Homo sapiens: one gene and its partners. The protein of the gene in region 3 interacts with the protein of the main gene of each other region in a pairwise test. Each region holds a gene or a part of one and is shown on either strand. Other genes may lie near its edges.

What was found.
Region 1: the proteins of PHAF1 (region 3) and TSHZ2 interact in binary tests that used the Homo sapiens proteins (3 or more experiments, as listed by UniProt).
Region 2: the proteins of PHAF1 (region 3) and BCAS3 interact in binary tests that used the Homo sapiens proteins (3 or more experiments, as listed by UniProt).

Annotation. Positions count from the first base shown.
Region 1 is NC_000020.11:52,967,308-52,975,375, reverse strand, and holds the start of TSHZ2 (teashirt homolog 2), read right to left. Parts: upstream 3,019-8,068; 5' UTR 2,083-3,018; coding exon 2,043-2,082; intron 1-2,042. UniProt on the Homo sapiens protein: Probable transcriptional regulator involved in developmental processes. May act as a transcriptional repressor.
Region 2 is NC_000017.11:60,673,510-60,680,928, forward strand, and holds the start of BCAS3 (BCAS3 microtubule associated cell migration factor), read left to right. Parts: upstream 1-4,341; 5' UTR 4,342-4,405; intron 4,406-5,943; 5' UTR 5,944-5,948; coding exon 5,949-6,031; intron 6,032-7,419. UniProt on the Homo sapiens protein: Plays a role in angiogenesis. Participates in the regulation of cell polarity and directional endothelial cell migration by mediating both the activation and recruitment of CDC42 and the reorganization of the actin cytoskeleton at the cell leading edge.
Region 3 is NC_000016.10:67,126,915-67,134,018, reverse strand, and holds part of PHAF1 (phagosome assembly factor 1), read right to left. Parts: intron 2,734-7,104; coding exon 2,690-2,733; intron 1,574-2,689; coding exon 1,494-1,573; coding exon of another isoform or gene 1,203-1,493; coding exon 1,108-1,202; intron 1-1,107. UniProt on the Homo sapiens protein: Plays a regulatory role in autophagic activity. In complex with BCAS3, associates with the autophagosome formation site during both non-selective and selective autophagy.

The DNA of each region.
Region 1 (8,068 bases), on a different chromosome or scaffold from region 3:
GCAATTCTGAGCAATGCACTTTTTGTAATGAGCTTACTAAAGGAGACATGTCCAGTCATTCTGGTAATTTAAATTACTGCCTAGTTGTTGATAGTCTTTACCGGAACAACCAGAAAAAAAAAAAGAGTAATTTTCAGGGCAGTATCACTTCTTGCTGGACCGTAGCCCAGGGTTCTCTTTCGGGACAACAATAAGGACGTTATCTCTAATAATGTAGCTACACTTAAACTTATGTTGCCAGAACTAGATGCAGCAGGCTCACTGTTCCTGGGTCTCAAAGGCCATTGAACACATCCACACGCTGTCAGATTGCAAAGCAGCCTAAGTTTTAGGAAATCAGTGAGTTAAATGCAGAAAGAGACAACGGTAGGAAAGAGACATTGTTTTCCAAAGAAGTAACTAGAGTTGAAAAAAGAAAACCTCACTGATGAGGCAAGTTCCAAATACGTACCTCACTAAAAATATTTTAATTATTTTGCTTTTAGGGAAACGATCAGAAAATATATGAATCCACGCTTTATCAATATTTCTGCATGCCACTTGAACCAACTTACAAATAGGGAAGCAATTCTGTGCTCAGAAGGAATGATAATTGTGGATATTTTGAAACACTCAGGCGAGGAAGGAGGATGAGCTTGGTGGTTCAACACATTCAGACAAGGGATGCCCACTCTCCTCAGATTCCTAACTAACTTTGGATTTGTTCTAAGGGTGACTTTGCAAAGTTTATGAAAGTGTTCCACCAAACTTCTCCCTATGTTTTGCTAGAGTTGGAACAGAATGAAATGTGGAGGTGGGTCTGCAGAAGACCAGTCTTACCTAATGTTGCCTAAATCAAGAGGGTAAAGACAGAGAGAGAGGAAAAAACAACTAAACTTAAGCTTTTTGCGAAAGCCCTGATTCAACTAAAGGACACAAAGAAATAAAAACGCCCACATTAAAAGCCAAACAAGATAATAATTGTGCATGTCTGGCTCTGAATATAGAGGGCAAGGTTTGCGTCACTGGCACTCTGAGTTACCATGGTGAGTGATTTATTGATATATATCAAGAATGAATAGATCAAAGGCAGCGAGATGACAGGTGATCAATCAAATGTCAAATCAAAACTAGCAATCAAGTGGAAAGCTGATTTTTCAGTGGGTGGGTCTGGCAGAAGAAAAATGAACTTTCATATTACATTTCCGAGAAACAAAACCCCAGCATACTATTAAAAAAGCAATTAAGCAACCCAAAAGAAAAAAAAACTTTAGAAGGTCTATTGTACTGATCCATTAACCTGTTCTTATCTTTTTTAGGGGGCAGTAAGGATTCAGATGGGATAGTTTTTACAGTACGAATCATTTCACAAAGTTTGCAACTCTCTAGGCAAAGAAAATCCAGAGCTGTTTAAATTTCTATGGGGAATTTCCCCCCTACAACCCTTTTTGGTTTTTTTAAAGAATAGGGAAATTGTTAATTACATTTCCAAATATGGATCCTTTTAGAAAATATATGCAAAGAGTCATCCATTTCCTGGGGGCATTTTGTCCACCTTGGTGATCAACGCTAAACTCCTATTGCTGGCCCCAAAGCCTGCCTGCAGCCCGAGTGTTAGGTATGCCTCACACTTCAGCGCCCCAAGCCCCAGTGAGAGGAGACGCTATCCCTGGAGGCCAAAAGCCACTGGCACTGACCACGCAGAGGGATGCAGGGGTGGAGGGGCTGTCTCCCTACTCCGCACCCCAAATCCTCAATCCGACTTTGGCCCGAGAGGCAAGAAACAGACTGGAAGAAAGTTAGGGGTGGGGTAGAGGGTGGAGGAAAGAAAGTTTAAGGAGGAAAGGCTTGGTGGGATAGCTCACCCCAACCCAACCGGAGCTTGGAAGGGGAGGATTTGGGAGACCAGAGAAGGCGAGAGAGGACGGGGTTATTAGAAGGGCACCCGGCGCAAACTCCCCCGAAAGCTTAAGTGGGTGGTGCCCCCGGGCACCCAGGGGCAAGGAGGGCGGGCGAGGAGCTCGGCGCACAGGGCAGCCCCGAAGCGGAGCCGTTTCTCTTACCTGCCGCCCGCTTGGGTGCCTGCTGTTTTCTCCTCGGCATCCTCTACTTCGCTCCAGTCCCACTTCTGGCGCCCCAGCCCCGAGCCGCGCGCTGGGGCCCGCTGTCTCTCTGGCCTCTCTGGGTCTCCTCCGCCTCTTGCCCGGTGGCTCCTAGGACGTCACTCGGCCTCTGTCCCCCTGACGATCCCCCCTGCAACTCCTCCACCACGGGCCAGAGACCCCCCTCTCTGGGTGGCAGACACGGGTGGCTTGTGCCGGCTGCTTTGAAGTAGAGGTTGGTTCTGCCTTGTTTGTTTGTTTGTTTATTTTGAATTTTTTTTCCTCTCTCTTTTTTGTTTTTGCTTTTGGAATTTTTTTGGTTTTGTTTTTGCGGTTTTTTTTTTTTTTGGTGACTGTTGAGACACTTGATTTCTTTATTAAACATCCAAGCCCGGGTTCGGATGGAAGGGACGAGGGGCGCACACGCGCCACAGGCACACTCGCGCGTAAAGATAAGGAAAAAAAAAAGGCAATCCTGGGAAGGTAGTGGGTTTCTTCTTTTTCTTCTTCTTCCTTCTCCTCTTTCCCTCCTCCTCCTCCTCCTCCACCTCCTCCTCCACCTCCTCCTTCTTTTCTTCCTCCTCCTCCTCCTCCTCCTCGCCGATCTCTATGGCGGATTCGTGCCGGGGGGAGAGCGATCACTCACTGTAGGTTTGTGGCTGCTGTCAGATCCCCGTCTGTGAGTGATATGCGAGAGGACAGGAGCGGGTTTTGGAAAGACAGAAAATCTGGAATTCACTCACTCACACACACACACAGACACACACACAGACACTCACACACGCACTCACACGCGCACGCACCCCCGCTTCCTCGCACACACACACTCACACCCCCCACATATGCACACACACACAAACACACACACACACCCTCGCACACACACACAAGACAGGGCGAGGCGATGCCAGCAAACATCGATCCCGCTGAACAAACTGAACATTAACAAACTCCTCCTCCTCCTCCTCTCCCCGCGACCTGATGACAGGGAGAAATTTACTCCCCAGCCGCAGAGCGCCAGGCAGCGGGAGCCTATTAAAGGGACAGCGTCCCGCAGGGGAGAGGGGCTGGGGGCGGGGGCCCCGGCGCGCCGGCCCAGGCCCCTCTGTGCGCCCTCTCCGCCGGGGCGAGGGCGTGCCCACCGGGCGCGGGGACACCCCTCCGGGAGGCGGAAGGGGCGGGGGCGGGAGGAAAGGAGGTGAGGAGGGAAGGGGTGCGGGAGAAAAGGAGGCAGTGTGATGATGGCTGAACTCTGAAGCTGGGAGGCTGTGGAGGGAGATTCAGGGGGGCCAGGTTGGCTGACCAGCAGGGACCATGCACAATCTTAGGAGAGGGAGAACTTAGGTTTGCTCGGGGCTGGGAAGGGGGAGGGGACCTTATCCAGTGAGGATCTCCATCCTGTAAGTCTTAACCTGCCCCCACCAAAATGTGCTCCCCACGACCCCTTCAATTTAGTGCCCCTGTCCCTCCCACTTTCTCGCTAATCAATGGGTGGTCACAAAAACAAAAATCTCCCTTCTGTCTACTTTAAGGTCTAATCATATACTCCTCTTTTTGTTTCCTTTGAAGAATGTTTATTGAGCATCTACTATGTGCCTATTCTGGAGACACAGAGGCCACAGAGAAAGGGAAGGTGGTGGCCATGTTGGTATTTATATTCTAATGGGGGAGTGCAGACAAGTGCCCCCCAGCTATCCAATCTTTGCTTAAATGTCCCCTTTTCCCAAAGGTCTACCTCACCTAAAATACACACACACACACACACACACACTCCCTGCCCCATTTCTCCATTTTGTTATTCCCCAGTGAGCTGATCAGTGAGTGTCACACAGGTTATAGACAGTTTTCTATTCTGTTGATTGTACAAGTTCCCCTCTTGAATGTAAGCTCCAATGGAAGGAAGGATTTTTGCCTCTTTGTTCTCTTATATCCCCAAGTGCTGGCAAAGCACAAGACATATAATAAGTGCCCAGTAAAATATTTGTTGAATGAATGAAAAGTAAGCAAGCAAATAAACAGGATACTTTGAGTGATTCGCTCCATGAAGACGTTAAGCTGAGTGCTGTAATAGTGTCTAAAAGGGGGTGGGTGGCTCTAGATTCAATGTAGGATATGGCATTTGAGCACAGAGAGATTGAAACAAACATGTGATTATTGAGTTCTGCTATCGGCCAGGCACCTTTTGAGGTGTTGGGGGCAAGTCTGTGAACAAGGTGAACCTAGACCATGCCCTCAAGGAGTGCTCCTTCCAGTGAGAGGGCAAAGCAACTGAGGGCATTTGATGCAGGCTGGGACTAGAGGTGTTTTTTTTTGCTTTATTATTTTTTTTATTTCAATAGCTTTAGGGGTAAAAGTGGTTTTCGGTTACATGGATGAATTGCATAGTGGTGAAGTCTGGGATTTCAGTGCACCCGTCACCCGAGTAGTGTACATCGTACCCAATAGGTAGTTTTTCAGTCCTCACCCCCTTCCCATACTCCTCGCTTCTGAGTTGCCAATGTCCATGATATCTTTCCATATGCCTTTGCATACCCATGCATTAGCTCCCACTTATAACCAAGAACGTGTGGTATTTGGTTTTTGATCCTGAGTTACTTCACCTAGAATAACGGCCTCCAGCTCTATCCAAGTTGCTGTGAAAGACATTATTTTGTTCTTTACTATGGCTGAGTAGTATTCCACGGTGTATATATATGTGTGTATATACACACAAACACACATATATATACACAAATACACATATATAGATATATATACCACATTTTCTTTATACAATAATCAGTTGATGGGCACTTATGTTGATTTCATATCTTTGCAATTGTGCTGCAATGAATATACGCCTGCAGGTGTCTTTTTGACATAATGACTTTTTTTCCTTTGGGTAGATACCCAGTAGTGGGGTTGCTGGATCAAATGGTAGATCTACTTTTAATTCCTTGAGAAATCTCCATACTGTTCTCCATAGAGATTGTACTAATTTACATTCACACCAGCAGTGGGTATAAAAGTTCCCTTTTCCCCACATCCACACCAATATCTGTTGTTTTTTGACTTTTTAATAATGGCCATTCTGGCTAGGGTAAGGTGCTATCTCACTGCAGTTTTAATTTGCATTTACCCTGTGATTATTGATGTTCAGCATTTTTTCATTATGTTTGTTGGCCATTTGTCTGTCTCCTTTTGAGAAATGTCTATTCACGTCATTTGTCCACTTTTTAATGAGATTATTTTTTTTTTTTTCTTGCTGATTTGTTTGAGTTCCTTGTAGATTCTGGATATTAGTCCTTTGTCAGATGCATAGTTTGCAAATATTTTCACCCATTCTGTAGGTTGTCTGTTTGCTCTGATGATTGTTTCTTTTACTGGGTAGAATTTTTTTAGTTTAATTAGGCTCCATTTATTTATTTATTTTTGTTGCATTTGCTTTTGAGGGCTTAGTCAGAAATTCTTTGCCTAAGCCAATGTCCAGAAGAGTTTTTCTTAGGTTTTCTTCTAGAATATTTATGGTGTCAGGTCTTATGTTTAAAGTCTTTAATCCATCTTGAGTTAATTTTTATATATGGTCAGAGACAGGGATAGTTTCATTCTTCTACATGTGGCTATCCAATTTTCCCAGCACCATTTATTGAATAGGGCAGGGGTCCCGAACCCCTGAACCATGGACTAGCACCTGTCCATGGCCTGTAAGGAACTAGGTGGCACAGAAGGAGGTGAGCAGGTAGGGGTAAGCAAGCATTACCATTTGAGCTCTGTCACTTCAGCAGGGGCATTAGACTCTCATGGGAGCTCTAACTCTATTGTAAACTGTGAATGCAAGGGATCTAGGTTGCACACTCCTTATGAGAATCTAATGCCTAATGATCTGAGGTCAAACAGTTTTATCCCAAAACCATCCACCCTGCCCTGGTCCATGGAAAAATTGTCTTCCATGAAACCAGTCCCTGGTGAAAAAAAGGCTGGAGAACACTGGAATAGACCTTTTCCCAACTTATGTTTTTATATGCTTTGCCAAAGATCAGTTGGTTATAAGTATGTGGTGAAGGTGTTCTTAGGAGGAGTGATTACCCTGAACTTGGCGAAAGGAAGGATGGTTACCAGGCGGGGCTTCAAGGGAAGAGGTAAGTCAAAGCTGAGTCTTACATATAACAAACGGGTAGGCAAAAAGGGAACTCTGATACTGAAGCCCTTGTATCAAAAAGACACCGTGTAAGGCTTCTGCTTCCGCATTAAAATCTCCTGAGGCCCTTGTTAAGATGCACGTACCTGGTCCTTGCCCTAGAGCAAGATTTTCTAACCCAGGCCCTATTGACATTGAAGGTCTGATAATTCTTTGTTAGGAGGGGCTGTCCTGTTCAATGTAGGATGTTTAGGAACATCCCAGGCTTCCGTTGTGACAATGCAAACTGTCTCCAGATACTGCCCAATGTCCCCTGGTAGGCAAAATCGTCCTTGGCTTAGCATCACTACCCTAGATCTTCTGAATCAGAAAATTCCGGATGAAGGCTTAGAGATCTGTATTTTGAACATGTAACCCATCCATCCCTACAAGTGAAACTTCTGCTCACACCAGTTAGAGAACATCTGCCCCCAAATTGTTTGTTCTTTTGTAATCAGACATACTCAATGTTGTTAACTATAAAGCCAAGTCAGGCTTAGATATTAATGTAACTTAAGGGTTCAAGGGGTGATGTTGTAATGGTGGCCGTCGCGATGGGGTTTCACCTGTGCCCACTCCTCAATACTCCTCCTCCCACCATGATCACCCCCACCCCACCACCCCAGCAAGGCCTGCCCAGTCTGATCTGGGACACTTCCCACTACAACCCACCCACCTGCTTATGGGGAACTACCAGTTCTGACTAGTTCCATGAATATTTTTCTTAACAGTTCTTTGGGCTGTATGACACTCAACTTTCCCTATCCTACTTGTCAGCCACAAAGTGTTGTTGTGATTGTTTGCAAAGTGCTGTTTAATCATTTTTAACATCCTCACGCACTTCTCCATCTCACATGTGTGGTACAAGTTGTTAACTCACTTGCCCTAAATCACCCGAGAAGCCTCCACCCATGACCAACTCCACCCAGTCCCAGCCTAGTCCTTAGGCAACTGAGGCAGAAAAAGCCCGATTTCATAGTTGGCAATGTCAACAAAAAAGGTATTAATTCTAATTACCCAATACATTTTTACAGAGCACTGTGCAAGGGACCATAGCCTATTGAATAAAACCTCACAGCCTTGCAGCCAAGGAACCACCGTTGTGGGATTAGGGGATACTTGTTTATAGGATCAGGAGGCCTGAACAGAAGAGGAGTGAAGCTGCAGCAACCTCACCATGAAGCCGCCATGCTCTGTGCAAGCCCCATGCCTGCTGGTGTGGTGTTTGTGTTACATTCAGCCAGTTATTTCACAGACATCTACTGCGCCTGTTAGGTCTACCAGGCCTTGCCCCAAGCACAGCAGATTTTGGAATGCATAAGGTAGGATCATCACCTTCAAAAAGCTTTTGGATGTTATAATAACATCCCAAAGACTGGGAACTAAAAAAGAGGGAATTTGGAAGCTGGGTCCAGCCTTGGAGACAATCAGGAAGGAAATGGGCAGGAGAAGATGACTTTGGATGACAGAATTTCCCTGAGGTTCTATCCAATATCCTTCTCAGAATTTTACATCCGCTCTCTCCTTGTTCTCAATAGCTGGTTATATAATGTGGGGGACTTGTAACAATTCTGCAGTACCTACTTTCTGGCTGGCTATTAACACATTGTTGGATCTACATTTCTGAAATGTTCTTTTATTAATTTGTATTTTTTCATACCGTTACTAATAGTTAGCTTAGTTATCCACGAAAATGGTTTTGGCTTACACCAGCGGGATGTATAACACTATGTACCCAGTGCTGTAGACAAGATGTTAAATAATATTGAATCACATAGTAAGAAAGTTATTCCCTTTCAATTCTCTTTCAATCTGATAAAATAACCATTTT
Region 2 (7,419 bases), on a different chromosome or scaffold from region 3:
TCCAGCTTAGGTGACAGAGTGAGACTCTGTCTCAAAAGAAAAAAAAAAAAGAAAAAAAAACTTATTTAGTCATAAAAAGCCTATGGGGTCGGGTGCAGTGGTTCACACCTGTAATCCCAGCACTTTGGGAGGCTGAGATGGGAGAATCACTTGAGCTCCGGAGTTCAAGATCAGCCTGGGCAACATAGGGAGGCCCTGTCTCTACAGAAAAAAATTTTTTAATTAGCCAGCATGTTGGTGTGTGCCTGTAAACCCAGCTACTTAGGAGGCTGAGGTGGGAGGATCACATGAGCCGAGGAGTTGGAGGTTGCAGTGAGCTATGATTGCACTACTGCACACCAGCCTGGGTAACAGCAAAACTGCCCCCCTCTGACGCCCCTGCTAAAAAGAAAGCCTATGAGGCTCATAATATTCTTTTTTTTTTGGAGACGGAGTCTTGCTCTGTTGCCCAGGCTGGAGTGCAGTGGCGCGATCTCGGCTCACTGCAAGCTCTGCCTCCCAGGTTCTCGCCATTCTCTGCCTCAGCCTACCGAGTAGCTGGGACTACAAGCGCCAGCCACCACGCCTGGCTAATTTTTTGTATTTTTAGTAGAGATGGAGTTTCACCATTAGGATGGTTTCGATCTCCTGACCTCATGATCCGCCCTCCTCGGCCTCCCAACGTGTTGGGATTACAGGCCTGAGCCACCGCGCCCCGCCCATATTATTCCTTCTACAATTTACAAAGGATGAAACAATGAAGGCACAGAAATTTACCAAGAAATGTAAAACTCAGCTAGTGTTCATCCTATTTGTAAATGGCACCACTCAGCTGATCAAGCCCAAAACACAGAAAACATCTTTTTTTTTTTTCCTCTAACACCTTTAAGGTTTCTTGGATTTGAACATCCTTGATTCTTTCCCTTTGGGTCCGGAGTTGGTTCCTTCCGGTGGATTCGTGGTCTGACTTCAAGAACGAAGCCGAGGACCTTCTCGTTGAGTGTTATAGCTCTTAAAGGTGGCATGGACCCAAAGAATGAGCAGCAGCAAGATTTATTGTAAAGAAGGAAACAACAAAGCTTTTAGCTTTCCACAGAGTGGAAGGGGCCTGGAGCAGGTTGCCGCTGCTGGGGGGAGTGGCCAGCTTTTATTCCCTTATTGTCCCCGCCCATGTTCCGTTTCTGTCCTAGCACAGTGCCCTTTCTTCAATCTTCCCCACGATTGGCTTTTAGACTCCTGCTGATTGGTACGTTTTACAGAGCACTGATTGGTGCATTTTACAGAGCACTGATTGGTGCATTTTACAGAGTGCTGATTGGTGCATTTTACAATCCTCTTGCTAGCTACAGAGCGTTGATTGGTGCGTTTTTACAGATCACTGAATGGTGCATTTTACAATCCCCTTGCTAGCTACAGAGTGCTGATTGGTGCACCTTACAATCCCCTTGCTAGCTACAGAGTGCTGATTGGTGCGTTTTCCAATCCTAGCTACAGAGTGCTGACTGGTGTGTTTTACAATCCTCTCCTAAGACAGAAAAGTTCTCCAAGTCCCCACTCTACCCAGGAAGTCCAGCTGGCTTCACCTCTCACCTTCATCCTGTAACCGAGTCCTAACTTGTTCTGCTCACTGCATGACAGCCAAGGGGTGAAGAGTCAAGGAGTTAGAGCAAGGATAGTAACTTTATTTCTGAGAGCTAGCAAACCCGGAAAATTGCAGAATAATGTACTAAAGAACCATCTTTTTGGCTGGGCATGGTGGCTCACGCCTGTAATTCCAGCACTTTGGGAGGCCAGGGCGGGTGGAACATGAAGTCAGGAGTTCAAGACCAGCCTGGCCAAAATGGTGAAACCCCGTCACTACTAAAAATGCAAAGAATTAGCCAGGAGTGGTGGCGGGTGCCTGTAATCCCAGCTACTCAGGATGCCGAGGCAGAAGAATCGCTTTAACCCGCGAGGTGGACGTTGCAGTGAGCCAAGATTGAGACACTGCACTCCAGCCTGGTGACACAGTGAGACTCCATCTCAAAAAAAAAAAAAAGTTGGAGTCTTGCTCTGTCGCCCAGGCTGGAGTGCAGTGCCTTGATCTTGGCTCACTGCAACCTCCACCTCCCGGGTTTAAGTGATTCTCCTGTCCCAGCCTCCCGAGTAGCTGGGACTACAGGCGCACACCACCACGTCCAGCTAATTTTTGTATTTTTAGTAGAGACGGGGTTTCTCCATGTTGGTCAGTCTGGTCTTGAACTCCTGATCTCAGGTGATCCACCTATTTCGGCCTCCCAAAGTGCTGGGATGAGAGGTGTGAGCCATCACACCCAGCCTGAAGAACCATCTTAAGTTAGTACACATTTCAGGCTCTTTTTGTGTTAAGGGCAGGGGGAAGAAGAGAGGGTTTGAATCAAGGGGTGACTGATGACCGTAGACATCTGGGCGCCAGCAAGGGTTCCTCGAGGCCTGAAGCCTCTCTGTTACTGGTCAGGTCACAATACTTTCTCAAACTCTCAACATTGTTACTTGTGTGTACACCCTCCTTTTCTCCTTGGGGGTTAGTTTTGGGAAGGGACTATTATCATCCTTGCTTTAAAGTTAAACTATAAATTCCTCCCTTGGTTAGCTTAGTCTATGTGCAGAGATAAGCAAAAGCAGTTAACTTAGATATCACCGATGGGTGGGAGTGGGGAGTTTAGGAGCAAAATGGAGTTAGTCATGCTAGGCCTCCTTTTCAATGTTACAATTCCACATTATCAAGTTATTTCAATCCCACATTATCAAGTTATTTCAATATTTCCAAATATATTCTTCTTCTTCTTCTTCTTCTTTTTTTTTTTTTGAGCGAGAGTTTTGCTCTGTCGCCCAGAGGCTGGAGTGCAGTTGCACGATCTCGGCTCACTGCAACCTTCACATCTCGGATTCAAGCGATTCTCCTGCCTCAGCCTCCTGAGTAGTTGGGATTACAGGCGTGCACCATCAAAACCCGCTGATTTTTGTATTTTTAGTAGAGACAGAGTTTCACAAAGTTGGCAAGGCTGGTCTTGACCTCCTGACCTCAAGTGATCTGCCCCTCTCAGCCTCCCAAAGTGCTGGGATTACAGGTGTGAGCCACCGTGCCCGGCCTTTTCTTTCATTTCTTTTTTTAAAATTTTTTAAAATTTTATGTATGTATGTATGTATGTATGTATGTATGTATGTATGTATGTATCTATCTATCTATCTATCTATCTATCTATCTATCTATCTATCTGTCTTGAGAGGGACTCTCTGTCACCCAGGCTAAAGTGCTGGAGGGCAATGGCGTGATCTATAGGCTCACTGCAATCTCCGCCTCCTGGGTTCAAGCAATTCTTCCGCCTCAGCCTCCCCAGTAGCTAGGATTACAGGCATTGGCCACCACACCTGGCTATTTTTAGTAGAGACGGGGTTTCTTCATGTTGTCCAGGCTGTTCTAGAACTCCTGGCCTCAAGCGATCTTCCCGCCTAGGCTTCCCAAAATGTTGGGATTGCAGGCGTGAGCCACCACGCCCAGCCCACCACGCCTGTTAATAAGCTATACCCTCACGGACCTGTCATTGGCATTAAATTTGATAATACATTAGAGTATTGTATATGAAGTATACGAAGGCCTGTGCTGAGTGTTCAAGAAGTCAGTCAGTATTATTCTACTTATATTAATAAATGAACTGATGAAATGACAATGGCGAGATCTCGATCTTCAACAATAAGGGAGATGGAAACTGAAGCAAGAAGTGGTCTACAAACCTAGCTCAAATTGTTGAGATTACCGGCCGTGCCCCTTATTCAGATCAACCCCTCCTCGGCTGATCGCCGGCGCGAGCCAGCCTAGGCTCCCGGAAGGTAAACACATCGCCAAGGGCTGGGCAGAAGGCGGGTGTGGGACGGGTGAGTGGCCAGCTAAAAGTGATTGGCAGCTGCCATGTCCACGTGCTCCGAGCTTGGAACCAGCTGTCGCGAGAATTCGATGTAAACAGACCAGTCTCCCTGTCCTCCGGCTCCAACCTGAAACGCTCACGTGAGCGGGACAGGAGTCTGGATCATGTTGCTTTTCTTTTCAAAGCCACGAAGGTTCTGTCTTCCAAAAAAAATGTACATGTTCGTAATTATTCCCCAGCTGCCTGCGTTTGCAACCGAACCTGACACCTCGGCTTCACCCGAACTTACATGCTGTTGTGTTTTCCCTCCAGCCCCAGCGGATTGGACACATTCAGAAGGCGGGTCCGCCTCTTTCCTACTTGCTGGTTGGCGAAGCTGACCTCCAAGGGCGGTGCCCGGCCATAGCCGGTTTGCTTCTGGGATTGGCTAGAGGGGGTGGTTCCGCTGAGGCGTGGTAGGAAGTGGCTGCCGTCAATCACTCGGGGAGACTCCAAACAGTGAGCCTAGAGCTGGAGACTAGCGTTAACCGGCGGGGCGGCCGGTGAGAGGGCTGGCAGGGCTTTGGCTTTGGGGAGGCTTGGGGAGGACGAGGGACTGGCGGCGTGAGGGGACTGGGTCGGGCTGGCAGGAATTCGACAGGAGAGAGGTGTCGATACTGGAGGGGGAGGGGAACAGTGCAAGGGGCCGGAGGGCGGCCGGGGGCAGCGGTGGCTCCGTGTTGGAGGTTAAGTGGGCAGCGCCGTACGAGTGTCTTTCAGGAGACTGGGGCCTGAGTGGCTGGCGAGGGTCGTCCCCAGGAGACAGGGCCCTTAAAGGGCAGGGCTTGGGAGACTGTGGTTCGAGAAAGCAAGAATGGGATGAGAATGAGAGGGCTGAGGGGCTGGAGGTGCAGGTATCCTCTGAGGAGGTGGTGGCTCTGCTCCTTGGGGCAGAGGGTGTTTTGGTTGTAGGAGGTGGGGCGCACAGGTTTAGAGTTTTCACATCAGGTGTGAATGCTCCCTACTTAAAAATGGTTTTCGGTGCCTTCAAGATGAGTTCCAGGTTGTGGGCTTCCCTGAGCCCTGTAAGAGATCTTTGATATTGCTGTCAGTCCTCTTTTAACCTTAACCAAGCCGACTCCATGCTCTTAAAATCTCAGTGATTCAGAGGGTCATGAAACATTCTAGGATCAGGATTTACTGATGTGACGGGAAAGGGTAAAGGGCTGTAACAACGTATTAGTTTATGTTAGTTATTTGACTACTTGCTACTAGTCAAATAATTACTTGACTTATTTGTTATAGTAGCAGGGGGTTACGAATGTGATTTAAATTGTGATTTACTCATAGATTCCCAACAGGTTTAATTGGAAGGTAGAGTGATATCATGTCACTTGTTCCGTTTGGTCTTGAAATATTGTACCATGTGTATTTTCACTATCTCAACATAAAATTGCAGTAAATTCCCATCCCATGATCTGGTTCTCTCACCCTTGTAATTTATGTTAACAACAGACCAAGGGGTACAGCAGGAGTCTTCCTTACATTGTTTTGTGGTTCTGAGACCTGGTCCTATTAAAAAACAAAACAGGATGGGCGCGGTGGCTCAAGCCTATAATCCCAGCACTTTGGGAGGCTAAGGCGGATGGATTGCTTGAGCTCAGGAGTTCGAGACCAGCCTTGGCAACATGGTGAAACCCCGTCGCTACAAAAAAATATAAAATTTAGCTCGGCATGGTGGCGCTCGCCTGTAATCCCAGCTACTCAGGAGGCTGAGGCAGGAGAATTGCTTGAGCCTGGGAGGCGGAGATTGCCATGAGCAGAGATCGTGCCACTGAACTCCAGCCTGGGCGACAGAGCGAGACTCTATCTCAAAAATAATAATAACCCCCCAAACCCCTCATTATAATTTGAAAAAAATTAAAAACCTACTTCCTCCTTTTTTCCCTTTCTGGTGTAACAGGAATTTCTGGGAAAGTTTCCTACATTTGAGGCATTTTTGACAAGGGATCTCTAGTGAGTAATCATAAATCTTCCTCCCTACCCCCAACAACGATCCATGTTTTTCTGTTTTTTGTTTGTTTGTTTGTTCTGGAAACAGGTTTTATGAATGAAGCTATGGCTACAGATTCCCCAAGAAGACCCAGTCGTTGTACTGGTGGAGTTGTGGTTCGCCCCCAGGCTGTCACGTAAGCACATTTCAGATAAACCCAATAGCTGAAGAAAAGATTACTCAGAATACTAACATTTAGGTTTTCTTTATGAACAGTGGTTACTTTTGTAAAAATCTTTTAACTGTTGGCTTTATGGGATGAATAATAATAATTGCCAAGACCAAATGAAGAATTGGAGAGTTAAGTTGACGTATTCAGCACATTTACAGAGTACGTGAAGAGCACTATGCTAAATCCTGAAGAGCAGTGTTTTCAAACTCCAGGTTTAACAAATTAGTGGATTGTTAAATCAGTTTAGTGGGTCAGGAGTTGTAGTAGAAAATGAAATAGAGGCCGGGCGCAGTGGCTCATGCCTGTAATCCCAGCACTTTGGGAGGCCCAGGCAGGCGGATCACGAGATCAGGAGATCGAGACCATCCTGGCTAAAACGGTGAAACCCTGTCTCTACTAAAAATACAAAAAATTAGCCGGGTATGGTGGCCCCTGTAGTCCCAGCTACTCGGGAGGCTGAGTCAGGAGAATGACGTGAACCTGGGAGGTGGAACTTGCAGTGAGCTGAGATCGCGCCACTGCACCCTAGCCTGGGCGACACAGCAAGACTCTGTCTCCAAAAAAAAAAAAAAAAAGAAAGAAAATGAAATAGAATATAATAGAAAATTAGAAAATATAGCTGAGAGTTTGTATTGTTTCATGACATGCACATAAATATGTTCATGTGTATGTATATATTTACCAGACAGTGATGTAAAATGTATCTCTTTTAACTTTTAAGTTCAAGGGTACATGTGCAGGTTTGTTATATAGGGAAACTCATGTCACAGGGGTTTGTTGTACAGATTATTTCATCACCCAGGTATTAAGCATAGTCCCCATTAGTTATTTTTCCTGACCCTCTCCCCGCTCCCACCCAACTCTGATAGGCACCAGTGTGTGGTGTTCCCGTCTATGTATCCATGTGTTATCTATAAAAGGAATCTCTTAGTCTAGGTCTCTGTCAGAAAGTTTCAAAGTAAGTGTCATAGTATATGTCTCTGTTTTTGGCATTCTTTGACAAAGAATGTCTATACTTACTAGAGTGAGTTTATAATCTAATATGGTTTGAAGATATGTATACTTTTTTTTTTTTTTTAGATGGAGTCTCACTCTGTTGCCCAGGTTGGAGTGCAGTGGCGCCGTCTCGGCTCGCTGCAGCCTCCACCTCCTCCTCTGTCTCCCAGATTCAAGCGATTCTCCTGCCTTGGCCTCCCAAGTAGCTGGGATTACAGGCGAGCGCCACCAGGCCTGGCCAAATTTTGTATTTTTAGCAAAGACGGGGTTTTGCCATTTGGCCAGGCTGGTCTTGAACTCCTGACCTCAGGTGATCTGCCTGTCTTGGCCTCCCAAAGTGCTAGAATTACATGTGT
Region 3 (7,104 bases):
TAAACTCCCCAAAACCATGTAAGTCCACCTTTAATTCTGCTTGGTTTTCCTTTTCTTTTTTTTTCTTTTTTTTTGAGACGGAGTCTCACTCTGTCACCCAGGTTGGAGTACAGTGGCATGATCTCAGCTCACTGCAACCTCCACCTCCCAGGTTCAAGTGATTCTCCTGCCTCAGCTTCCTGAGTAGCTGGGACTACAAGTGTGCACCACCACAACCAGCTAATTTTTTTTTTTTTTTTGAGACGGAGTCTCGCTCTGTCGCCCAGGCTAGAGTGCAGTGGCATGATCTCGGCTCACTGCAAGCTCCGCCTCCCGGGTTCACGCCATTCTCCTGCCTCAGCCTCCCAAGTAGCTGGGACTACAGGCACCCGCCACCACACCCAGCTAAATTTTTTGTATTTTTAATAGAGACGGGGTTTCACCATGTTAGCCAGGAGGCCCGCCTCGGCCTCCCAAAGTGCTGGGATTACAAGCGTGAGCCACTGCGCCCGGCCTGTTTTTTTTTTTTTTTTTTTTTAATATTTTTGGTAGAGACAGGGTTTCACCATGTTGGCCAACGTGGTCTCGAACTCCTGACCTCAAGTCATCCGCCCGCCTTGGCCTCCCAAAGTGCTGGGATTAGAAGCATGAGCCACCATGCCCGGTCAGTTTTCCTTTTCTTCATAGGGGAAAATGCAGAAATGCTTCCTTAATTAAAATAAGTCTTATGAAAGCTTATCATTTTCACAGCCCCTAGGATGAATGAAATGTTTGCAAAAACAAAGGTAACTGAAAATCCAGAGGATGAAATCTCCAAATTCTAGGCCACCAGGAAAACTGTTGATTAGGAGCTTGAAAATAAGGAATGAATGAACTTATCTCTGAAAAGTGAGCCTGACCTCACTCCATTGTGGGAAGTATCCTCTTCCTCGGAATGCCAGCCTGAGCATTGTTCTTCCTCTGTCAACCCACCCACTCTACCACTTTACCCTGTAGAGCTCAAATACATGGAAACCAAAGAAAGTCTGCCTATCTAATACCCACTCCTCTATTCCCATCCCATGACACCATCTGCTGAGCCATACCACAGACACATACAACAAACACCAGGGGACAGGAAGGGCTAACCTCATACTTTGGAGCCTCAGTCCATGAGTCTAACTGAAAAGAGAAAGACAGTCCTCTGAAGTTGAGATGGAAGAGCTGCTCAGCGGAGTTGTACACTGTTGGGGGTGGGGGAGAAGAAAATAACATGGTTGACTGGCATCTGAAATGGCTAACATAAACCAGCCTGGCAGGGAGTAATGACTGACAACACCTTCCCTGTGGCTTGTTTCTAAACTGGCCTACTAGGTTGAAAACAAGGGGGAGGATGTTTCCTTCACACCCAAGTACCAACCCCACAATCCTATGGGAGCCTGACTCCAGGAAGTGGGGTGGGATGGCACTACCGGGCAGGTTTATTGCTATGAACTGCCACTGATGACCAGAGGAATCAGATGGACTTGGCTTACCTCCAGGATGGGTTGCGCCAAAAGACTGGTCAATCTGTTCAATGGTAGGAGCTATGGCCTGAGAATTAAAATGCACGCCACTGAAAAACAAAAATATTTTTTAATACTAGGCTTCACAAGATGGGCCCACAGATCATGTGAGATAGTAGCTGGGAGAGTTATTTTTAAGACACAGGCAGGTGAGTCTCTAATTATATCAAAATACAAAGCTTAATTAGAGAACTTTTAAATAAGAGCATTAATGAGGTCAGGAGAAGGTCAGTTCTCATGAGGCTGATATACAGAGTTGATCCTCTGGGGCTTTATGACACCAGTGACTCTTAAGAAAAGGGTAGAGAAGAGAAGCCACCAGACCCTGAGGTATGAAGGCCCCAGTAAAACTAAAAGACAACTAGAACCTGCAGGGGCCAGTGGTACCACACATTTGCTTGTCTACTCCTCTATCAGCAAAACTGCCTGAGCCTGCCCCAGGAATCAGGTCCTCTTCACACCCTCAAAAAGGGAAAGGGAAGCCAGTTAAGGAGACTTACTGAAAGGAGTATTCTATCGCTTGAACCCAGGAGGTGGAGGTTACAGTGAGCTGAGATGGCGCCACTGCACACCAGCCTGGGTGACAGAGAGAGACTCCGTCTCAAAAAAAAAAAAGAAAGAAAGAAAGAAAGGAAGGAGTATTCTAGATTTTTAGATGCAGGCATGCTGCCTTGCCATAATGGGGGCGCAACAACTTTGGACTGTGCATGTCATCCCCGCTGTAATTCTAAAAAATACATTATAGCTCTAAAATGGTGGTCTCTTTGGCATTCTCTTCAGCATAGGCTTTGGAGTCAGACCTATCTGGTTTGTCCCACCTCTGTTACTCATGAAAACATGAAAAGAGGTGCCAAGAGAGGCTGTCAGCGGGAGGGCAGCTATGACCCAGGAGACTGTCACATCACCTCTGAGCTGAGGTCTGGCTTTGTCAAGTGGATTAAGTTAGATGACATATACATGAAGTGTTAAACACATCACATATTCTTAATGAGGTTTACTTCTCTTCTCCAGGAAACTGAGCAGGCTTGAAGGTTGCCTCAGGAATTCATGGCACCAGGCTATAATTCACATCTGTGACAGATGTGAATCTTTACTAACTTATGAAGATAGTAGATATGGCCTGTCTATACCAAGTGTGACATATACCAGCAGGGGAGAAAACTTACCAATATTTTAACTTTACTTTAGTCAAATCACATACTTCGATCACCTAAAAAAAAGTTTAAGAGTTGTCAATGCTCTGAAAGTGATGACAGACTAAAAATGATTAAAAATACATTTATAGAATAAATAGTAAAAAAAAAAAAAAAAAAAACTATTACCAATAGAAATTTTATGGAAGCACTGCATGTTATCTTTTGTTCTCATTTAAAATTTTTTTAAAAACTTTTTGTAGAGATAGAATCTTAGCAAAACTAAAAAACTATGTTGCCCAGGCTGGTCTCAAACTCCTGGGCTCAAATGATCCTCCTGTCTTAGCCTCCCAAAGTGCTGGGATTACAAGCATGAGCCACCATGACAGTCCTTTGTTATTTTGAAACCAGGGAAAAAACCAGTTTCCCCTTCAGCATAACCATAGCCAGTGTCCCCTTCAGCATAACCTCTTAGCTTCCCTCTCCTAGTGGACTGCTCAACAGATGTCCATGGATGCTCTGGGTCAAGGCTCTTACATGCAGTCCACTTCTGGGTCAGGCTGGAGCACACACCACCCTATAGGACAATGATCTCTTCCACAGACATGAAGCTTGTTAAGGCTCTGCTTTGGGCACTAAGCCCCCTTCCTCCCATCTCATATTTTGCTGCATTTTAAAACCCAGGTCGGGTTGCTTTAGAAAATAGCTTATTTTAGCCGGGCACGGTGGCTCACGCCTATAATCCCAGCACTTTGGGAGGCCCAGGTAGGTGGATCTCCTGAGGTCAGGAGTTCCAGACCAGCCTGACCAACATGGTGAAATCCTGTCTCTACCAAAAATACAAAAATTAGCTGGGCGTGGTGGCACACACCTGTAATCCCAGCTACTGTGGAGGCTGAGGCAGGAGAACCGCTTGAACCCAGGAGTTGGAGGTAGCAGTGAGCTGAGATTGCGCCACTGCACTCCAGCCTGGGTGACAGAGCGAGACTCCGTCTCAAAAAAAAAAAAAAAAAAAAGGCCGGGCACGGTGGCTCACGCCTATAATCCCAGCACTTTGGGAGGCCGAGGCGGGCGGATCACAAGGTCAGGAGATTGAGACCATCCTGGCTAACACGGTGAAACCGTGTCTCTACTGAAAAATACAAAAAATTAGCCAGGCGTGGTGGTGGGCGCCTGTAGTCCCAGCTACTGAGGAGGCTGAGGCAGGAGAATGGCGTGAACCCGGGAGGCAGAGCTTGCAGTGAGCGGAGATTGCGCCACTGCACCCCAGCCTGGGCGACAGAGCGAGACTCCTCCAAAAGAAAGAAAGAAAGAAAGAAAATAGCTTATTTTGAAGTTGATTTTGTTTACAAAACAAAAAGATGGAGGGGGAGGTCTATCCCATTAGAAAGCAAGCCATAATATTTGTCACACAAGTGTGACAGTATTCAGTTATGTCCCTGATGAAGAGGATCTGGTTGAAACAAGAAAGCCTCAGGACCTTTGTGAAGCTTGCTCTTTAATGGGTTCAGCCTCAGATGAAATTCTAAGAACTCAGGGCAGGGCAGAGATAAAGGAATAGGCATCACCTAACACTCCGCCATCAGTGGTGCCAAGTAATAAGCACTATGAAGTCCTCCATGCAATGGTGTCAAGGGCTTGGCAGCCAGCAGCACAGGTAGGGGCTCGGAGCACCATCTACCATCCTCCAGCTGGGAGGTTTTGCTCTCATTGTGGAGACACAAGCAGAGCTGGCTCAATATCTGTTTGTCCTGCCAATCTGAGCCTGATTGTGGAAGAGGCTGTGGGGCATTGTATGCAGGAACATCTGGCACTGCCAAAGAAACTGAGACATAATAGATAGTAGGTTCGCTTTTGGCCAGAGACCCTATCCCTAACTTTATTTAGAGACCACAACACTGAACCAAATTGGATACCTCTTGACTATAATGTAGCTCTTTTGATCCTATCTGCTAGAAAGAACTGCTCCCTCTGCTAGGCCGTCACAGCACTGGAATGAATCCTTTCCTCCATACTTGTGTATTCTGTTAAGTGGTCCAATAAGTTAAGCCCCTTGAGGGACTCATTAATTTGCATAGGGAAGGTGTTCAATTCATGTTAGGCAATTCTGCCTGGTATGAAGCTTGAAAGCATGAAAAGAAGTGCCAGGAGGGGCTGTGGAAGGAAGGGCAGGGGAACAGCTATGATTCAGAAGATAGCCAGTGTCCCCTTCAGAATATCTGGGCATGGGAATATATCATGCCAAACTGGCATGCCATTTCACTGAGGCCAGAGCCTTGTCTAGCAGAGAGCCTCTACCTTCAGCCAGAAGCCCTCCTGTTCATAGCAGGCACAGGCACTCACCTCCCTCACTTCTATCCCTACAGCTGGCCAGTCATCCCCCAAAGCTTCCCACCACCCGCCCTGTGGAAGTGAGCCTGCACGATGTTCCTCCTGTATCACTGGCACCCCACCTGCCAACAGCTATACGGGTCCAACACATATAGGTGCTTCGACCCTGCCTGATCAATGGGAAAACAGTGGACCAGAGCTAATCACAGGGCACGAAGCAGCACTTGTGGCAATGGACCCAGAGTGCTGGCCATCCTGGAGTCCTTCATGTCACTAGGAGCATCAATAAGCAGATTTCATCTCTTGGAGCTTGCTGCACTACAGGGACAAGCAGCTGGGAAGGCTAAAGCCCATGATTTTCCATCTCTGGGCTACAGAAGCTCCTGATTTCCCCAGAGGGGAAGAGATGTGGCAGCAGCCAAGATAAAAATGGAAAAGACAGGTGGCTGTAAAGGTTGTGACTTATAAAGCCTCATTCCACAGGGCTGTCTCTCTTAGGCTTGAGGCAGGGGGTGGGAAGCAACTATAGGAGGCAGCATCAGAAGAGGTGGATTCTGAAGGTGTTGGATGGAAGGGCAGGAAGATAGGTCAGGTCAGGCTGGTGCCAATCAAAAACACCTGGGTGATTACTTGCTCAGTTTCCAGAAGACTCAGGCAGGACCCCAGTCTCTCCTTCATGGGGATCCCACAGAAGGCAGAAGAGGATTGCCGGTTTGATTTTATCTCCTTTCCTATCCAAAGGTACCTCCCATTCCTCATATTTCTGTACATTTCTTCAGCTTTTCTTATTTATTTCCCAGATCCATCAACAGAGCCTAAGTGGTCAGCCACCACATATTGCCAATATCCAGTTAAAAGCCTGGCATCAGGTAGACTACTTATCCTCTCTGTCCCTCGGTTTTCTTGCTAGTAAACAGTACCTACTTCACAGGCGGGTTAGGATTAAACTAGAAAACGCATGTGAAACACCCAGCCATGTGCCTAGCATATACTAAGCACTCACTAAACATATGACATTGTCTTCACCATGCTGTGATTTTATGGGCTGCTGGACATCCCTTTTGTTGCCCATTTAGGTTACTTCCAGCTTCTCATTACCATGAAATACCGTTACCTTCCCCCAGTGTTTCTGGGTTACATTTTCTAAAGTGGACTTTTACCAAGTCAAAGGGAAATGACTACTTGTAAAGAAATTTCCATGTTACCAGATTAATTTCCCCCCAATTTTTTTTTTTTGAGACGGAGTCTTGCTCTGTTGCCCAGGCTGGAGTGCAGTGGTGCGATCTCAGCTCACTGCAAACTCTGCCTCCCGGGTTCACGCCATTCTCCTGCCTCAGCCTCCCAAGTAGCTGGGACTACAGGCGCCTGCCACCATGCCCAGCTAATTTTTTGTATTTTTAGTAGAGACGGGGTTTCACCGTGTTAGCCAGGATGGTCTCGATCTCCTGACCTCGTGATCCACCCGCCTCAGCCTCCCAAAGTGCTGGGATTACAGGCGTGAGCCACTGCACCCGGCTCCAATTTGTGATTATGCGATATTGAAGATCATCCTCTGCCCTTTCCCAGTGTGGAACTTCTGGCCATGGAGACAGGATAGAATGAGGAATTCTAATTCCACATACTGATTCTCTTTCCATGTTTTGTTTTCTCTCCTTAGCAGTTCACTTGTGACAAGGATGATGAGAACTGGTAAGTACCCAAGTCTTTTGGAAAGGCTACTCCATAACCCAAGAAGGACAACAACTCTGGCATGCCACTGCCCAGGGCCCATCCAACCTCATGACTTTGAGGCATGACTCTGGTGTCACATGACTAACCTGTGAGGCCCAGGCATTTGTAAACAGGGTATATCAAAAACAGACTGAACTGGGTGCGGTGGCTCATGCCTGTAATCCCAGCACTTTGGGAGGCCGAGGCGGGCGGATCACGAGGTCAAGAGATCAAGACCAGCCTGGCCAACATGGTGAAACAAAAAATTAGCTGGGCGTAGTGGCACGCACCTGTAGTCCCAGCTACTGAGGAGGCTGAGGCAGGAGAATTGCTTAAACCCGGGAGGCAGAGGTTGCAGTGAGCCAAGATTGCACCACTTCACGCCAGCCTGGGTGACACAGTGAGAC